2 separate regions of the Homo sapiens genome follow, and region 2 is linked to region 1. Evidence: fine-mapped expression QTL. A gene starts in region 1. The other region holds a variant in brackets. All regions are shown on one strand. Distances are from middle to middle. Region 1 holds the start of CHRM2 (cholinergic receptor muscarinic 2). Region 2 overlaps CHRM2 (cholinergic receptor muscarinic 2).

What was found. PIP is the estimated chance that this variant, and not a neighbour inherited with it, causes the effect.
Region 2: its variant is fine-mapped to the expression of CHRM2 in fibroblasts (GTEx, PIP above 0.99).

The regions. Positions count from the first base shown.
Region 1 is chr7:136,864,152-136,874,407 of GRCh38, forward strand. CHRM2 (cholinergic receptor muscarinic 2) reads left to right here and starts at 4,501. Exons shown (of 4, transcript NM_001006630.2): 1 at 4,501-4,841; 2 at 5,110-5,267. RefSeq lists an enhancer at 5,180-5,942.
Region 2 is chr7:136,948,640-136,958,895 of GRCh38, forward strand. The region is part of intron 2 of CHRM2 (cholinergic receptor muscarinic 2); the gene reads left to right. All of the region lies in intron 2 of LOC349160 (a long non-coding RNA gene), which reads right to left. Among named protein-coding and RNA genes, the nearest start is that of MIR490, 51 kb to the left of the region's middle. The variant A/T (reference allele first, on the strand shown) is at 5,009.

The sequences.
Region 1 (10,256 bases):
GCTGTTTAGCATTTTGCAGGGTGGTGCACTTCCCCTCCCATCTCTGCTTTTTCTCCCTTCTTCATAGTCCCTGTCTGCAAAAGAGCCCTGTATTTTAAATATTTTATACTCAGCAGCAGTAAATGTTTTCAGGCATTGGGTAACACTATCGCTGCTATGAGAGAAAAGAGTTGAAAACATCTGTGATGCCAAACTTCGTGGAAAAGAAAAAAAATAACAAAGCATTGTTTGTCACACTGTCACTAAACATTATCCCTCAGAATCAGTCCTATTTGTATATGAAAACTTCAATTGCAGGGTCTGAAAAAGAAAAGCTCAGGATTTTCTAGAATAAAAACAGATCATCTTTTTAAGCTAAAGAATAGAAGCTTTTAAATTACTCTCTGGGAAGGTCTGTAGGAAAAAATAAATAATTCTAGGAAGAATAATGTGTGTATTATGAAACCATTATTAAGATTTCAAAACAGTAAGAGACAATTGAAGAACCCATTGTAAGTAGTGATTGTCATTTAGCGGAGATCTACTTTTAACCCAGGATTGTTATATTTCAAACTGAGGTCAAGGAAAAGAAAGGTTTCTTTGGCATCCATCAGATAAATCAGCCCACCTTTTCCAAAGCTCCTGCTGATAAATACGGTGCTTCCCTGATTTAACTCTTAAACAGTCTGTGTGAGTAGAAGATGAAGGACAAGGCAAGATCTGCTCTTGGCTCATTTTCCCAATATAGGCAAAGCCCTCAACTTCATTTTCTTGGTTCCTTGAAAATAGAAAAAAAATTTTAAAAATGTTATGACTGCCATACCTGGTGGGAAATCACTGGAGTTGAACTTGTCACCCTCTTAATCCACTTATGATGATAGAGTGCTGATTTGTGCATCTAATTATTGAAGCCTAATTATTGCTGCAGTGAAATCAATGTGGCATGTTAAATATGCGCCACACTCCCAGGAATGAGACCTGTGCTTCCCCTTCTTCTCATGTTAGTGGTGACCTTATTTATAATCTTATTCAAACGAAAGCTTTGTCAAAGATTCAAAGTCACCCTTCACAGGCATTGAGAGCTCTTCAGTGTGTGTCTGAAGGTTATATGTAATGAAGTTTGGCTTAATAAGTAGAAATTACTAATTTATTAGAGTTCCTTGAGGTGGAAAAGAGGAATGTAGATTAAAAAAAAAATCTCATAGATGCATTTTACAAAGTATTTAAAAAGCAGTTTTGAAAATGTTCCACACCAGCCGGCACGGTGGCTCACGCCTGTAATCCCAGCACTTTCGGAGGCCGAGGCAGTCTGATCACTTGAGGTCAGGAATTCGAGACCAGCCTGGCCAACACGGTGAAACGCCGTATCTACAAAAAATACAAAAATAGCTGGGCGCAGTGGCAGGTGCCTGTAATCCCAGCTACTTGGGAGGCTGAGGCAGTAGAACTGCTTGAACCTGGGAGTCAGAGGTTGCAGTGAGCCCAAGATCATGCTACTGCACTCCAGCCTGGGCGACGGAGTGAGACTCCATCTCACGAAAAACAGACAAACGAAAATGTTCCACACCAAGAGTTACTAATCATATAAATGCTATATTCCTTGGGTGGGGAGTATTCTTTTTTTTTTCCTCAGAAAACGAACTGGCTTAAGAGATTAAAATAAAACACTCAGAATACACATGATCATTTCTTGTATGGAAACAGCAACTAGAAGAAGAAAAGAATTAAGTTCCCTGGGGTCAGAATGCTGATGGATTATGTTTATCTTGTTAATTATATGATGGTGATGAGCATTATGGTTTGCATTGTCAAGAATCACTCCTTAATACTCTGTTTCAGAGGTCACAGGTGTGACCCAAGAAACTGTATTTTTCAGTCTTGACCGACAATGTTATATTTATAGCAATTTGCTATGTGTCACATGCTCTTTTAAGAATTTCACATGAATTACTTCCATTATCCCTCCTACCAACCCCGACATGTATGCTATACCCATTTTATGGTTTAAGAAGCTGAGGCAAAGAAAAGTTAAACAACTTCCCTAAAATCACAGTGAATGGCAGAGTTACAAGTCTATATAAAGATGTGTTCTAAGTGATGACCTAGAAAAAGAAAATGGACATAATTGATGACCGTTGGCTAAAAATGATGCTTCCCTGTGCAACTCCTCTCCAAAAGGCCTTAAGTATACTGACTTCTATTAAACATAGCACTTCAGTCACACATAGACTCTGTTTTATTGAGGTTTAAGAAAAATATTCGTTTGCCTTCATTGGTTATTTATTTGGTTGCTCATTTTGGAATGTGCAGCTTTATTAGTAAAAGGGGGCTTAGTGTTCTTAATGATGTAAAGGAACAAAAAAGTAACAAATCACTGGGTTTTCCTGTCTATTGCTGGCCAGGGATCTATTTCTCCTCACTTTTTTGCTTTGATGGGTGTGTGTCTGTGTGTGTGTTCCAAAAGACTCAAGCAGCTTCATGGGTTTATGGAGGCTCAGTAGACAGAAATAATGGAGTAAAAAAGGAAAATGTGAATTCATTCTGAAAAGAGTGTCTAAGAGAGGAGAGATGACAAAATCAGATATTTAATGTAGTGGAACAAATGCTGGGAGAGGCTGAGAACAAGACTTAGCAGGGCTGTTTTGATTTTCTCACAGGTATCTTATAATCACCCAGTGATGGTGGGATGTAAGTATGGAGGTTGAAGGCAGAGACACAGTATTGTAATGCTGCATTTTAGGATGACTTCAATCAAGCAAAATCAACTTTGTGTCAAGTCCTGCTTGGTGATAGCTATGAGTTAACAAAAAGGGCAGAAACTTTCAGCTACAGCATTTCCATTTATCAATAAATTTACATTGCTATAAAATTAATCATTGGATTGTCAACTGTTACATAGATGTTTCAAATGAAGTGTCTTTTCTTGTCAATAGGAATAGAAGCTTATAAAAACACAGGGACAGTGGTTTTTGCTCTTGTGGATGGCCTTTAATACCTAGCAAAACCCTGGACGTCAAGAACTGAACTGAATTTAATTGACTATATTATATTATATCAATGTATCTTTAACTTGCTCTTTGTCTATCCCTGTGACCCAAAAAGTGATGTGTCCAATTCTGGGCTATTCAATTTAAGGTTTCCACTTCTTGCTCTTTATTTGATTGAAGTTGGATGAGAGAAAATAAAGCCTATGTAATATATAATATATTGATGTTATATTCACATACACATATGCTTTTACAAAAGCAAGTTTTGGCCTAAGCTACACTTTAGAATCCTATCATTGTACTTTTATCAAATGAGGTTAGTATCTAAAAATAATAGATACAATTATTGGCAGAAATTTCTCATTAAAATAAAGAAATAAACATCAAAGGCAGGTCTGAACACAGAAAGTTTGCATCCTAAATCTTTTTTCATGGAGATCACAAATTCCCTGAAGCATCAAACATATATATATTCTGGAGATATATATATATATATATATTTTTTTTTTTGAGAGAGATATATATATATATATTTTTGAGATATATATATATATTTTCTGGATATATATATATTTTCTGGATATATATATATTCTGGACATATATATATTCTGGATATATATATCCTGGACATATATATATATATTCTGGATATATATATCCTGGACATATATATATATATATATTCTGGATATATATATATATATTCTGGATATATATATCCTGGACATATATATATATATATATATATATATATATATATTCTGGATATATATATCCTGGACATATATATATATATATATTCTGGATATATATATATTCTGGATATATATATATATTCTGGATATATATATATATATTCTGGATATATATATATATATTCTGGATATATATATCTATATATTCTGGATATATATATCCTGGACATATATATATATATTCTAGATATATATATTCTGGATATACACATATTCTGAATATAGATATAGATACAGATATAGATATAGATATATTCTGTAGTCTACTGCCCATTAGCTGAAGAAAACATGGTCACTGGCTCATATTTAAAGTAAGAGAAAAAAATTACTTCTCCTTCGGATACATTTGTCAAAGCTCCAAAGAAATAAACAATCTGTGAATAGTTCAGCACAATTATATATTTACAAAGCATAGTGGATTTAGTCTAACATTTTCCCACCTGGAAAAACTGGGCTTAAGTATCTCCGACAAACAAAAAGCAATACTGCGTTCTTCCCAATATGCCATGTCACCTTTGTAGCACTCACACACTTGCAGGGAAGGGACTCGGGGTTGGGGGTGGTTCTGATGTAGAAATTGCAGATGGAGAGCTGGGCTCTGGGGATGGAAATGGAGAGAAGCGAAAAAGAGCCTGGAGAAACGGCTGTCATATTTGCTCAGAAGAACCGCCAAATCAGAGAGCACAGAAGATTTCATTGGAGGAGCGCCTTCAACAGCAACTAATCCTGTCATACTGAAAGAAAATTGTAAATGTTCTCTCCAGAAATTGTCCGCCCATTGCAGCTAATCGAACACACACGCACGAATACAGACACGCTCTCCTGCTGTACTAAAGGCGCCAGGGCGCAAAGACCTAGGGAGCGCGCGCGGGCACACACACACACACACACACACACACAGACACACACACACTCACACACTCCAGGCTGCGGGTTGGCCAGAGCCTGGAAATCGCAGATTTCACCAGGAAATCGCCGAGGTACCCGAATAGGTGTTGCCTCCCAAAACTAATTCCTACTTCCCCAAGCACTTTGGTGAAGAAATGAATCCAGCCCAGCTCGCCGAGGCATCCAGGTCTCCATTCTATTTTGGTCTCCAGGCTCTTCGTGAAAGCCAGGTTTGAAAGTCTTGTTTGCTTCTCCTTTAGTGGTTTGGCGTGGAGGGCGGGGGCAGCGTCAATTTAACTCCAGTCTAAACCACGAACAGGTCACAGACTAGCCAAGTGGCTGAGACGAGTGTGGGGTGCGTGACTCTGCCTGCGCGCGCGCCAGCCCCGCAGCTCTCGCCAGAGCCTTGGGGTCGGTTCTCTCCCGCCTCTCCCGCCTCTCCCGCCCCACCCCTACAGTGTCTCGGCATCAACTAATCTTTTCCTTTTCTTTTGCAAGATCAAGGGAGAAAGAGAACCGGCAGCTGGCCTCGGACTCTAAGCGGTGCGCAGCTCCAGCCCGAGCGGATCGGCCCTGAACCCACAAAGGACTCCTCGCTCCTTCAAGCCTCCACCACCTCGCAGCCGGGGAGGCAACTGGAGCGAAACCAGCGACAGGTAAGGGCCCCGCGCTGTGCAGCTCTCCGCTTACCCACTCCAAGGGCCCTGGCACCAGGGGGTCTCTCCCTTCATATCCCCCCAAGCCGGAGGCTCAGGGGTCGGGGCTTGGGGGAATTGGAGGGAGGTCCTCCCCACGTGCAGATTCTCAAACGGAAACTTTGGATCCTGGGGCTTGGAGGGTTGCGAGCAGTGATGGCGGGTCTGAAAGGAAGGGGCAAACGAGGCACAGCGCGAGGCGAGGTACCCCTACGATTCCGACGGTCACTGAGTCCAGCCGAATGTGGCGAAAGCAGCCTGGGAGCTGCGCTGTCCCGGCGTCGCTCCCTATTCCAGCCCCCCATTCCCTCTACTGTTGCTGACCCCCCTCCCGCCACCCACTCCAGATGCAGCCATGGACAAGACAAGGAGAGCTTCGTCCCTCCCGCCCCTCGGGTTCCTTCCTGCTGGGGTCTGACCGCGTCTTCTGTGCGTGTGGGATGGAGGCCCGGCTCGCTCGGGCTCCGAGCTGTCCCCCGGCTCCGCTTTCGGAGCAGCCCTTGGGCGCTGGAGAGGTTTCCCATTGCGGTCTCCAGGTCATGGCCAAGGAGGAGAAGCAATTAGAATGGGGGAAAGGGTCCCAAGACAAAGGAGAGGGAAGCATTCTGCAATCCCATCCTATTTGAGCCCCGCGCAGGAGCTGGACTGTCCGCCGTGGCTGGGGGACAAGGTCTCAGCCCGAAGCTCATGAGGTACCAGACAGTGCCTGGGCTTCGCCACCTAACTCACAATGGGTCCTGAACCGCCCGGGCAGTCCCCGGGGTCGTAGACTGGGGACCGCTGCACCCCTCCCCGCCCGCAATGTCCCTTGGAGTCCGCACCTGAGGTCCCAGGCAATCGCCGCTAACTTGTAGCTCTCGGACACGGACAGGTGCGGTCCATGCCTGGTGCCGGTAGACGCGCAGAAATTCCACCTGTGCGCGCTGCCCGGCGCCCCTGGGGCCCCTCACGGGGTAAGTAGAGACTCATCTGGGAGAGGTGAAAATTCCCCAGAATTATTGACACACACGGCGGCACACCCTTTGCCTCCGTCCGCCTCCAGCATCCGCATCCCTTTCTCTATCTTCCTGCCCATTGCCGTCCTCGAGGCTGCCCTGAGATACAGAATTGTCCCAGGCTGAGTCCACCGACCCGCCAGTCCCTGGCGATGATGCCAAGGCTCTTGCATGTACGGAAATACCAGCAGGGAGGTTCGCCAGGGGCAGAGAGGCTGGAGGAGAACAGAGAATTGGAGGTAAACGCGTAAAGCCAGCAGAACTGTCGGTGGACATTTCACCCAGGCCGCCCTCCCGCGTCTTTAAGTCAGTTCACCGCCACAGCACGTCTGTGACTGCGGCCACCCAGGGCTCCAAGTCTGCCAGCCCAGGCGCCGCGAGCCAAGAAGAGCGCGGCGCCTCCCACTCCTCAAGCTCCGGAATCCCCCACATCGACTTTCTATTTCCCTGTCTTCTTTTCTTTTTTGTTTGTTTTGCTTTTCCTGCTCTTTTCTTAGCGCTGGGTGGCAGTGGGTATGCGGCAGCCGTGTGATTTGCCCATCCCCTAGTACACGCAGCCAGCGACACAAGCACACAGCGACCAGTCCCCACGCTGTGCCACACACCCTCCAGCGGTCCGGCGCGCAGCCCCTGCTCCACAGCCCGGGACGCCTGCAGCCACCGCCAGGGTCATGGCCATGGCCCACGCAGGGCTCTGCGGGTGGAGAGGGGAAGTCAGCCTAGACTCCAGAGAGAAACCCTGGGGCAACCCGAAAGGCCTGAGGAAAACTGGAATTGGGGTTAGGCATGAGGGGAGGGAGTCTCTGGGGAAAACGGGCCGGGCTGTGCGGAGCCCTGAGGGCTCCTGCGGCTGCAGCGCTGCAGGCCGCCCGCGTCTCGCCCCGCCCCGCCGCTGGGCGTCCCCGCCAGGAGCCCACCCGCGGGCGGCAGCTTTTCTCCATGCTGCCCAGGGAAGTTCGATGCCTGGTGCTGGGATGCGCCAGCGCTTCTGTTCGCTTCTGGCAATCCTGGCGTCTCCCAATGAGAGGGCTCTCAAAATGAAGCTTTTAATAAACTCCAGAGTAAGGAACTCGGGATTGTGCGGCAAAGGCCGCGCATTGCACTTTGTGAGCAATCGGTAAATATGCGCAACCATATGATAGGAAATATATGCATTTTCATTGATAAGAAAAAAAGAGATGATGGTATTTTTAAACAGAAGCCACAAACAGGCATACCTGTGCCATTGTTGGGGAGCTAATAATAAAGGCACTGATGATCACAGGAGTAAGAACAATTGACTTGGCCAAGAGACAATTTTAAGCTGGGAACTGTATTCGGCTGCAGTTCAGAAAGTGGACTTTTGAGACTTGTCAAACGAATGGAAGAATTTTGTGCCAACAATGTCCCAGCTTTGCAGGCTTGGCAGCTGAGGACTCAGAAGTAACAAATTAATGCCAGGTGAATTATTATTGTTACTACTATTATCAAAATGTGTTCCAGTTGCAGCAATACAATGGATAAGCAACTTCCTATTGACTCTATTTGCTTTCCTGGGCTAGACAATAATGCCAATTAAAACTTAAAAAATTTAACCTGACCCTAAAAAGAGGTGAGAACTCCAGCCAAATCTGTTTACCATTTTAAAATAAAGCTCTGTGAATGAGGTGGGGTGGGAATGGGGGAAAGTTTTGGGACTCCAAATTCCCAGGGCTAGACTGTCTGAAAGATGCTTCATTTTCCTATAAAATAAAGAGGCATGTTTGTTTGTAGAAGGGTGCTTGAGGGTGCCTGGAGGCAAATTGGAGTGAGCAAATAGGTGGATTTGAATACTGTCATAGTTCCAGTAAAAGGGAACCCAAAGAGCATGTTTTCAGCTCTCAACTAACTTCAGAGTCAGATGTGGAAAGAACTAGCAGGTGAAATACTGGTAAAAGTCCCTTTGGAGTGAGTTCCCATGGTCCTTCAATTTTGGGAGGCTGAGACTGTTGTCTTCATGTTAAAAAACAAACAAACAAAAACACATATTGCTCTAAATTTGACCCTATCGCCTTCATTGCCCAGAAAGTCCAGATAGTCAAGCATCCAGATGTGTCTTTACTGGACAATTTTCCAATTCCAATTCCAGAGCAGCCATTCCCCAGGGCCAATAGGAATGGGTGGTTTCAGAGATCCAAAGAAAACAGTCCCAGACTGCTGGCAGGTAGGGAAGGCACAAAAAGCATGAATGACACTGTCTTCAATGGAAGTTAGGCTGGCTAATTAGGAGTCCTATGTCTCTCTGACCCACAACAATGAGTAAAGTTAAAACAAGTACAAAAGAGGGAGAAGAGAAGAAATTAGAACAAAAGGGAAATGAAGACGGAATGGGAGAGAGAAAAATGAGGACAAGAATCTGTAGGTATATCAATAATCGTGCTGGATTCAACCTCCATCACTGATGTCAGCCTTTGTTTAGAATATGCATGTGAGCGAACCCTTTCTATTATCTTCACAAGATCACCCAGACACCATTCTCAATCCTGTCTTAAACTTTTCCCACTTTACTCAATAGGACAGAGACTGACAGAAACATTTTGCCACACAGTTCTCTTGAAGAATTGGTTTTCTTTATTTAAACTTATATTTGACTTGCTTGAGATTTTATGACATGGACTCTCCGTGGCATAGTTCCCAAGAGACTCCTATGTATCGAAAGCCACCAATGTCCACCTTGTGACTACTAACAACTGGCTTTTGCTTCCTGTACCCACTCTGTCCACCTTTGGTTCATTGAGCAGGCATCAGGACTTCTCTCATTTAAGATAAATGGCATAAGTATACTGATTGCATATCCCACAGCTCACCTGGCCTATGTGGTGGAGGTGGTATGTGGGGAAAGAGATGCAAGTCACCTTTCCTTAGGCAGGTATTTTTGCTGTGTGTATTCTAAGTCCTTGGCATTATTCTAAGCATCTTCCCATATGATATTTTCTGTTTTGTCAGTTGCTTTAGCCTCACTGCTTAAAATACAGCCAGGCATACCTAAGAAACATATTAAATCTCTTTTGAATGAGTTAATACAGCAATCAATTTTCTCATTTTATCTTTGCAACAATCCTATGTAGTAGATGTTATTTTCTACAGGAAGAAATCAGCATTCAGAGGGGTCTGGTAATGACCCGAGATCATACAGCTAGTAAGTTGCAGCCCCTGGATTCAAACACAAGCTTGTTGGACTCCACTGTCTTAGTTCTTATAGTGTGTCAATCGGTTCGCTATAAATAGTTGTGGCACTTGTTTTCCCTGTGTTTGGGGAAAACAAAACCATGGCATTCAGAAGTTCAATGATGTTCTCCCCATCTGTTAATACAACTTTGCATGTTTTTGTTAGATCCTCCAAACCTTAAGCAAAGAAGAGGCAGTGCTGAGTAGGCTCTTAGTTGGCACGTGCTTGTCTTGTTTAGTCAGTGATTGCCTCTGGCAGAGGTAAACGAGGGCACCAAAATTTTGGCAGATGCCATTTTCACCTCTCAGCAATACTAAGACATTATTAAACAGAAGTTCTTTTGTCTGATGCATAGTAATAAAAGATAATTTTGATATCATTCAGCTGAGTTCATGATAGGAAGCAGATCAAGAGACTTTTTCAAGGTGACACAGCTAACCAAGAACTGCATAAGAACACACACATCCCAATCCCAGTCTAGTTGTCTCTCCATTTTTTCATGCTAAATGAGTTCTCTTTTTCTATAAGATTGTTGGCACTTAAGATTCTGAATTTCAATGGCCCCATTTACTTTTAATTAGTATTTATTATCCACATGTGCTTTGAAAAGTATAATGTTACTTTGTAAACTGCTATTAGCAAAGAATGAGGTAGGTTCCAGTTGGTTTGCCTCTTTCCACTCTTTATATATCTTTGTCTTACTTTATTTATTTCTCTTTTTTTTTCTTCACATGTTCTAGCTCCTTCTTTTATACTATGACCTAAATA
Region 2 (10,256 bases), 84 kb after region 1:
TTAAATAGGCATGAATGTCAGGTTTGTTTCTATTTGGTTAGGAAATAGCTTGAACAATAAAAAAGAAATGAGTCCTTTCTTCCACCACAGCTCCTCTGGTGAACAGAGAGTGAGGCAGTAAGCAGTCTCCTGTTGATAAAAAAGAAATGAGTCTTCTCTTCCACCACAGCTCCTCTGGTGAACAGAGAGTGAGGCAGTAAGCAGTCTCCTGTTGATCATCTGAGAGGGAAGCATCCTTGGGAATGGGAAATAGCATCAAGTCAGTTCAGAGTGGATCCACAGACATTTCAGAACAAGAAGGGAAGGTAGTGCAGCTATGGAAGGCAATCAAGGTGGAATGAAGGGGGCGTGATAGAAGGACATCAAGAACAAACAGCAAGATGTTATTACCTATCTAGAACAGCAAACCAAATATGTATCTGTGCTAGTCACACAAAGACACTAGGCGGTGTCCTTGGATAGATGGCCTTTGTTTTCTTAGTGGCTCATTGCAAAGAGGCCTGTAATATAGAAGGAAAAGGAATCAGAAACTAATATTTAATACACTACAGATAAATTATTTAATCTTCATTACAAACTCCAAAATTTAGAGATAAGTAGCTTCATTTTTTAAAAGATGAAGACACAGAAACTCAGAGAGGCGAAATATTTCTTCCATAATTATTAATGTCAGCAAGTGCTTAATATAAAACTCCAGCTGGGCACTATGATTCACACCTGTAATCCCAGTACTTTGGGAAGCTGAGGTGGGAGGATCACTTGAGGCCAGGAGTTCAAGACCAGATTGGGCAACATAACAAGACCCTGTCTCTGCAAAACTAAAAAAAAAAAAAAAAAAATCAGCCAGGCATGGTGGTGTGCACTTGCAGTCCTAGCTACTTTGGAGGCTGAGGTGGGAGGATTGCTGGAGCCTAGGAGTTCAAGGATGAAATAAGTTATGATTGTGCCACTGCATTCCAGCCTGGGTGATAGAACAAGATCCTGTATTGAAAAGAATTCCCATCTGGCTCTGGAGGTATACTTGCTCTATATGAGTCAAATAATTTATATTTCTTTATCTTGAAAAAGTAGCAATAACATCAACTTTTTAAAACAGTATTTGATTTTTTTTTTTTTTGGAGACAGAGTCTTGCTGTGTTGCCCAGGCTGGAGTGCAGTGGCGCGATCTCGGCTCACTGCAAGCTCCACCTTACTTATTTATTAGATTCAAACATAATGGTTTTTCTATAGCATAAGCCTGCGCTCTAAGGAATTAGTAGGTACAAAATTATAACTATTCACCTTCATGAGATAAGACCAAACTGTTTTCCACAGGGGAAAATTTCTCCAGCAATGTAGACAGGATCACATTTATTCACATTCTTTCCATCATCTGGTATTATAATATTTTGTTGTTATTGCCTCTCTAGTGGGAGTAAAATGATACCTCATGGTGGTCTTCACTTGCATTTTTCTGACTAATAATCTGATTACTAATTAAACTAAACATCTCTTTTTTATTGGTCATAAATATTTTCTCTCCTGTTTGTGGGGATTTTTGCTCATTTTTCTATTGGGGTGATTGTTCTTTTTATTAAGATCATCTCATTAAATGTAGAGTTTGCATCAAGAAGACGAAGTGCCCTCGTTCCTCATCAGGACAAGTGTGGGTTCTGGGAGGCAAAAGGTCCCTGTAGGACAATAGAGATACAAATCATAATGGGGATGGATCCCCCTCCAGGATGCTCCTGTCCCTGCGGGATGGGGGTGGGAGTGGGGATCAGGGTAGTTGAGGCAATGACAGGCTTCCATGGAACCTCCCATGATACCTGTCTTCAGTTCAGAGGAGTGGGGGTTATTTGCCAGGAAATGGATGGTGCCTGAGGCTTTCCCACATCTGTGAAGGAATTTAGCATTCTGTGGAAAGTCCCCAATCTCAAAACCATCCACTGTAGGAATTGAAATTGCAATAAAAATTCCAGTGAACGATGTAAATGAATAAATAAAGTTGGATTTCAGTCCTCAAGCTAAAAACAACAAAAAAAGAAAAAGAAAATAAAAACAGATGAAGAAGTTGCAAAAAGTAGCGTAGCAAATTGGTAGAAGATTCTGAACCAGGACTGAACAAGTCCAGTGCTTTTACAGAATAGCATGAACCCCCAACCTGTTGTTGTTGTTGTTGTTGTTGTTGTTGTTGTTGTTGTTGTTGTTTCGAGAGAGAGAATCTTGCTCTGTATCTCAGGTTACAATACTGTGGCAAAAACATGGCTCACTGCAGCCTGGGCTCAAGTGATCCTCCTGCCTCAGCCTCTGGAGTATCTAGAACTACAGGCACATGCCACCATGTCCGGCTAATTTTTTTTATTTTTTTGCATATTGCCTAGGTTGTCCAGGCTGATCTTATACTCCTGGCCTCAAGTGATCCTCCTGCCTCAGTCTCCAAAAGCACTGGGAATACATAGGTGAGCCAGCCCGACATGGCCTCCATTCCCTGAGACTCATTCTCAAACAGAGGAGGCCCCCTGGGTGAAGCTACTTGCATAAGACCATGTGGAATATCCAGCTCGAATGGTTCTTGTTACTTCAGCTTCATTCTTTTAATAGAAATGAGGCAAAAGGTGCCAGGCACATGGATGACAAAGAAACCCTGTCAATTTTGAAGATACATAGAATTTGTTGTAAAGCAACCACCAGCACAGCACCTCCCAGTCTGGAGAAAGGTGGGGGTGAATGTAGATTTGATGTGAAACCTTGTGTAAGATATATAATAGGCACTAGAGAAATGACACTTGGCGAAGAAAATAATAAAATATGACTTGCTAGAGAGCCTGGCTTTGCTGACCAGCTGTAGGTTCTATAACTGCAGCTTACGTCCCTTTTGTTTCACAGTATTTATAACGCACTTGGCAGATCTGCATTCTTCCCTCTCTGATTGCAAATAAGAAAAGAGGGAGTGAGGGGTTGGCATATGGGAAGAGGATGAAAAGGGATGATTCGCTGTCCTTTCCTAATGATATCCGGAAAGAATAACTTGGGATCTGGGATAGAAGAAACTTACACAAATACAATATTTCAGTGAATTTATTCATTCTTTCATTGGCTCCTTCCCACCCTCCACATTCGTCACTGTAAGCACTGGATCACTTTCCTTGTATGGTATGGTGAATTGACTAGTGAGAAGAGACCTGTTTTTCTACTGAAATGGCAACCTTTAATCTACATGCATTCTTTGCCTTTCCTCCTGCTATAGGTTTTCCAGGTCCTGGCACCCATATTTTCTTCCTGCTCTTTTCTCTCTCTTCTTTCTTCAGTTGTTTTCAGATTGAGGAGAAAATAGTATCTTTGGGGCATCTCTTATCCACAAGCAGGTTTAGATTACTTCCCTGTTATATGTACAGGATTTGTCGCCCTAGACCCTCAAATGCTAAACTGAAATTCCAGATCTTTAGGGTGGGAGCAGAACACAACTTATTGGTCCCACTTCGACAAGGGCAGAAGTAGATTCGAGGGCTTGTGCATACGTGGAGAGAGAAAAGAGCTTTGAAGATATCCACAATACCTTTCCAACATTTGGAACAGGACAAATAATTATGCGTTTCTAATATGATGACATAAAATATATTTATAACTATGCCATGTTCTCTCACTACAGAGTGCAAAACATTCTGTTAAAAGCAGTATTTTAATTTCCCTCTTATTTCCTCATTTTTCTCCTTTCTTCTTCTATTATTCTTCTAATTGCTTTATTGATTTATAGACTTATTTAAAGCGTATCGAAGATCTTATTATCCAGCTCTGTCAATTCACAAATGAGAAATTGAGAACCAGTGGCATTGTTCAAATTGTTTATGTACTTCAGTCATGAAGTTCTGGTCGTCTGACTTCTACACTGCTGTTCTCTACCCATGATGACTGAGTTTCTACTTTAGGAAACTGCCTCTCAGACATCTTTTTTAAAACTTTTTTTTTTAAGTTCAGGGGTACATGTGCAGGTTTTTTGCATAGATAAACTTGTGTCACGGGGGTTCACTGTAGATTATTTCATCACCCAGGTATTAAGCCTAATACCCATTAGTTGTTTTTCCTGATCCTCTTCTTCCTCTGACCCAGAACCCTCCAATAGGCCCCCGTATATGTTGCTCCCTCTATGTGTTCATGTGTTCCTATCACTTAGCTCCCACTTATGAGTAAGAACATAAGGTATTTGGTTTTCTGTTTCTGTGTTAGTTTGCTAAGGATAATGGCCTCTAGTTTCATGTTGGATTCATGTCCATGCAAAGGACATGATCTCGTTCTTTTTTATGGCTGCATAGTATTCCATGGTTTATATATACTGCATTTTCTTTATTCAGTCTATCATTATGGGCATTTAGGTTGATTCCATGTCTTTACTATGGTGAATAATGCTGTAATGAGCATAAATGTGCATGTGTCTTTATGATAGAACTATTTGTATTCCTTTGGGTATATACCCAGTAATGGTATTCTTGGGTTGAATCGTATTTCTGTCTTTAGGTCTTTGAGGAATCGCCACACTGTCAGACATCTTTTGATAGACTTGTAGACTGGCTCTGTTTTTTGTTCCACTTTGTATTGTTTCACATCAGTAAAATTAATATACAGTCTGACTGTTTAGAGACTGAGCATCTAAGTGCCCCACTACCCCTATGTTACTTGTGAATATTAATAACTGTAAATTTCTGGTAGTGACAAATGGACCCTTCAGAGACCTCAGTAGAGTCCTGATCCTCTATAAATTACCAAAACGCTATTAAGTGTATAGATAGATTTTTCTGGTCTATGTTTTCTATGATTTTCCAAAATCACAAATATCTTAAGTCATATGAGTACTTTAATTTATTTTGTCTATCCTTAGAAACCCATAGTTAGTAAAATTTCACAGCCATGGGACATTAAGTTATGCCACATGCCAAATTACTCATTCAACAAACATTCACTGAATGCCTGTTACGTGCATTCTACTGACAGGCAGTGAAGATGAAAAAGATGGATGTGACTTTTTCCTCCG[A/T]GAGCTCATAGACAGTGGCTGAAACAGACATGCAAACCAAAAATTTCTTATGCAGAGCAGGCATCCTATGCCTTAAAATTTAATGAAAAAAAAAAACAAATATATTTCAGACGGACAAAGCACAACAGGAGAAGGCAATGCAGCATCAGAAAGGCAGTATCTGTTGGCTCCTAGTTGTACCCCACTTGTCCTCAGAGAAGGTCCAGCAACACTAACCATGGAGGCAAGAAGACTAATCCAAGCAGCACAGCACTGCCTCTGACTGGCACATGCATTAGGACATTTTCCTATCCATCCTCTTACCATGGTGAGAGGAGATCTTGGGCCAGAGCTGGACTGGTGGACTATGAATCTAGGTAGAGGAATGGCCTGTTTATTATGAGAAGAGCCTCCAGGGCTCAGATGCTTATATCAGTCCAGAACTTTGTGTTCTTCCTTTGAGGTAAGAGTGAGCTGACACCTTGATAAGCTACCAAAAGGGAAGAGGAAATGATCCAAGGCCATCTAGATTCTTCTCTCCTCATTCTTTATACACATACATATGCATTATATACATATGCATATACCTATACCTATACATTTATATATGTGTGTATTTTTCCCCTCCACAATGCCATTATTTTAAAAAGTTGGTGGTCTGTTGTCTGAGCAAATAAAGTAGGTACACACATGTGTTTAGCTTTGTGTGAAATCTCAAACTTTCACCATTCTCTCCACATGTTATCCTCATCTCATTTTTAGGATCAAAAGAAAGTAAGTTATTTCATGATTCTGTCGATTTCTTCCTCCATATTACCTGTCTTTCTCTAAGATCTTACTAAATTGTAGATTATCTTCTAAACTTAATAACATAGTTTATTTTATTTCTGTTGACAAACCTTGCATGTCTCCTCTTCATATTCAATGGATTCTCTACCTGAACTCCCTTTCTGTTTATTTCTCCCTCATGAACAGTGAGTTCATGGAACTATAAACAATGTAGAAAGATCAAAATACAGAAAAAATATGAAAGACTTTTGAAAAGGTAGGGGCACTGGATGTATTTTATTCTCCACTCTTTAACTGTGATTGGAGCCCAGGAAGCTGAATGATCTTGACTACATCCATGGATTCTTCCATCCTCGTAGCTGCCAGTTGGGTTCAACCAATGGGAAGCATCAGAAGATGATCAAGAGACAAGAGGACAGTTGGATTAAGATATTCATAACCTCACTACCCCTTCTGGGAGATCACTATAGATTGTTGCCTCCCTCTGCTAAAGACCACAGCTCTTGGCAGACATTCCTCAACACAGACCTATATTCCTGGTTCCAGGAATCCCCTCCTCTTCCCACTTTGGGCCTAATGGTATTAATACCCCTACTAGTACTATACCCTAAGTGCTGCACTTTCCTTTCTTGGTTTCTTAAGGACATTCTCGCATAGTTGTGTTGTAGATGGTAGGATAAATGAGCCGTAAAAGAGTTTTAAAAGTTCGTGTTTTCTTTCACATTGGGCAACTCCTTTTGAGTAAAATATTCACCTCTCCTCCTTCTTTCTCATGATTTTGAAATGCATCCTGACTGCTTCCTTTACTAGCCAAAGTATTTTATAATCCATTCATATTAGTGCATTAAATAACTCAATTCTTATGAAGCATGCTGCTGATCTGAATAATAATGTTATGAGTGAAAATGGCACCTTTAGTACTATTACTCTGGGGCTTCAACTTAGCATTTGTTTACTTCCTTGGAATACTCTTGTCCTCGGGTTTTCACATTCTACCTGGCTCCTAATTATTTCCCAATGGTAAAGTGCCAATTCTAATAGTAGAATAAGATGGGATACATTCAACCTTATGCACTGTCACCTATTATTCGTCAAATTCCAGCCATGAGTTGGATGAGCTCTGTATCCATGGCCATGACAGAACATAGTCCAGCTTGGCCATTCATTTCAAAAGGAATGTCCTGGCCTTTGTCTCTCTGTGCTTAAGGAGGCACCCTTTGCCCTTCCAAGCAGTTGGAGTATACTAGGACGTATGGTCATTGGTCTAGGCAGTTGGTTTTGCAGAATTTTGGAATAACTATCTTCACACATTTAAGTCTGGAGCATTCTCTATGCCCTTTAGTACTAATTTTTGAAAAATATTATCATAAAATGAAGTTGATAAAAAGTAATAAAGGTCTGTTCTCTTGATGCCTGAATTTCAACTTGGCATCTTAAGCATACATTATTTATGCAAAGTGTTATAAATCACCATATGCTCATTAACTACTTGTTGTCTGCACATATAATGAGGGTTTTTTGTTTATTTTTAATATATTTTATTCTACTTGAATAAATGGTAGTAATGTTTCAACTGATATTTACTGAGTAACTTCCCTCATCCTTATACTACTCCCAGAGTTAGAAGTAACTCAGAAGGAAAAATATTAGATTCCAGTTCACTCTGATGTATATTTTTAATAGGGGAAAAGAGAGATACTATAATTGTATCATATTACAACATAGAGAATAAAATTTAAAAATAATTTTGAACAAGACAAACAAGGTGATCTCACAGAAGGATGGAGTTATTTCAGGACTTTGGAATGGCATGGAATATAAAATATGGACTTTATGAGAGAGCAAGAAAGAATTGTTAGTCAGCGGTCTTTTTGTTTTGATTCCTCCTTGGTTTTTATACATTCTTTTTAATGTACTATTTATTTTCTGTTTGAACTGTTTTCTAGATGAGCCTTAATATAAATGTACTGTTTAAGGGGAAATGTCAACTCTTAGTCATCTAGAAAAAATGCTTCACTCTGACCTAAGATTAGTGGGTATAGATAGCAACAGGAAGCCTGGATTGAAAATAGACCTGGTTTTTGAATCCTCCATTACTGAACATCAATATGTAAAACAGATACAAATGGGGCATCAGTTGCAAAAGAAGACAGGAAGCCTCTACCCACATTTCCACACTTCCTCTACCCAGAGGATTTGAAAATTACTGGTATACTTTTTTATTGTTAGAGCATTCAAATGTTATCCTTCATTATTAAATAAATAAATGGTGACTGCTGACATATTAGCCTCAACTCAAATCCCTTTGTCTGTAGCTGTATAGTCAGTTGCCAAGAAGATATTTTAGTGTCAACTAAAGCAACAAATCAATGCAGACAGGGAACAGGGAGGGGGAATGGGATCATATGAAGGTTTTTTTTTTCCTCTCTCTCTTATTATTACACCCATTTACCAGAGGAAGTGTAATGCAATAGGGTGAGGACCTCTCTTCCCGCTGACTCCTTAGCAAACACGCTTGAAGGCTACATGTGACATAATGTGAGGTTAGCCCTGGGACTCACTGTTCAAGAAAGCTGGCGGGACTCCCCCTACTCCAAGGCCCCTCAGAGATGCCTAATGGAGGTGTGTTTTGGCCTGGATTGACAATCCTCTTGGATGACTGACTCTACAGACCAAGTGGCAAAACCCCACTTCACTTTGTGCTGGAAAGGCAGCACAGTAAGTCAGGAACTAACCTGCGGCAGGAGGCCAAGGATTTGGATGGCAATTTCTGTGCTTTGTTCAGTACATCTTTTGGGGGCAGCCCACTCCTATCAACATAACAGGTGTCATAGTGTATATGTGTGTGTGTGTGTGTGTGTGTGCACATGCACACATGTATGTGTGTATTTTCTAGAATAGCTCCATTAATGAAGAAACTAGGAACCAACTAAGGAACTGTTAACTATTGGCAAAATATTCAGTGCATTCTGATTTTCAAGTTGTTGACTTATTGGTTTGAAGCTTGTGCAAATAAACTGGAAATGTTAAACAAGCTGACAAACACATAAACCCACAAAAGATAATGACAGTCTATTTATTTGCTGTGCAATGACATCCATAAGATTATAAAAATACCAGCTTATTCTTTTTGACTATTACTCAGTGACACTCGAGAGACGAGTTGGGATCTCTGACAAACAGAGTATTTATGGGATGACATGTATCTGAAAAAGCCACAAGGTACATACCAGCACTGTGTGTCTCTATATTGTATAAACATATCTATTGTGTATTCACCCCTCAGTTTACAAGTTGCTATTTTTCCTGAACATGTTAAATGTTCTGTAGAGTTCTCTAAACAAATTTTAAATATTATGACATCTCAGTAACTATTGCATAGAAAATCTTCATATCTAGAATAAAACATAAAACTTTTTATTGAAGCCACATCTATAATTAGTCAAAACGTTTTATCAATTCAAAAGTTTTTAAATCAATTCACTAAGAATATCAAACTGAAATTTGACACTTTATAAATTAAGCTAGAAGTTTAAAAACTAAATATTTACCATTTGATCATCTGATTTTGAAAAATAACAATGACTCATAGTGGCTGCTTGATATTATGTAATCTATTCCATTTGGAAACATAGTTTGAAACTGATTACACTGGTGCCATTTTTCAAATTTTTAATTTTCTAATGAGAATTTGGCAAATTATTACCAGCACATTTTTATGCTAACGGAAATGAGCCAGTTGAGAGGGAAGAGAACAGCTGGTGGAATAGATAAGAAGGCAACATCTTAGAGTTGGTAAGAGAAGAAGGAATCCAGTGAACAAGAAGAGACATTGTCTTTAGCTTAGACACAATGACTTCATCCATGATAGCAGCAGCGAGGGCAGAGTGGTTGGGCTCTGGTACTTGCAGCTCTTTGAATACCATGATGGGAGCCTGTGGGCACTTTATTTTATTCACTTCTATTTTCTATTGTACTTCTTACATCTATTGTAATTCTTACATCTATTGTAAAATGAAGAAGCAGTGTCATCTTTTTTTTTTTTTTTTTTTTTTTCTGAGACAGCGTTTTATTCTGTTGCCCAGGCTGGAGTGCAGTGGGGCGATTACAGCTCACTGCCACCTCTACCTCCCGGGGCTAAAGCCATCCTCTCACCTCAGACCCCTGAGAAACTGGGAATACAGGAGTGTGCTACCATGCCCAGGTAATTTTTGTATTTTCTATAGAGATGGAGTTTCACCATGTTGCCCAGGCTAGTCTCAAATTCCTGAGCTAAAGCCATCCACCTGCCTCAGCCTCCCACAGTGCTGGGATTACAGGTGTGAGCCACCATGTCTAGCCAGCATCATCTGTTGAGAGTAAGAATGGGTAAGGAAGTGCTGGAGATTAAATGAGACTTCAAATTACACAAATTAGTTTTTAAATGGCAGTAGGAAGTAAATGGATCACCAGCTCTGTCCACAATACAAGTGATTACCTC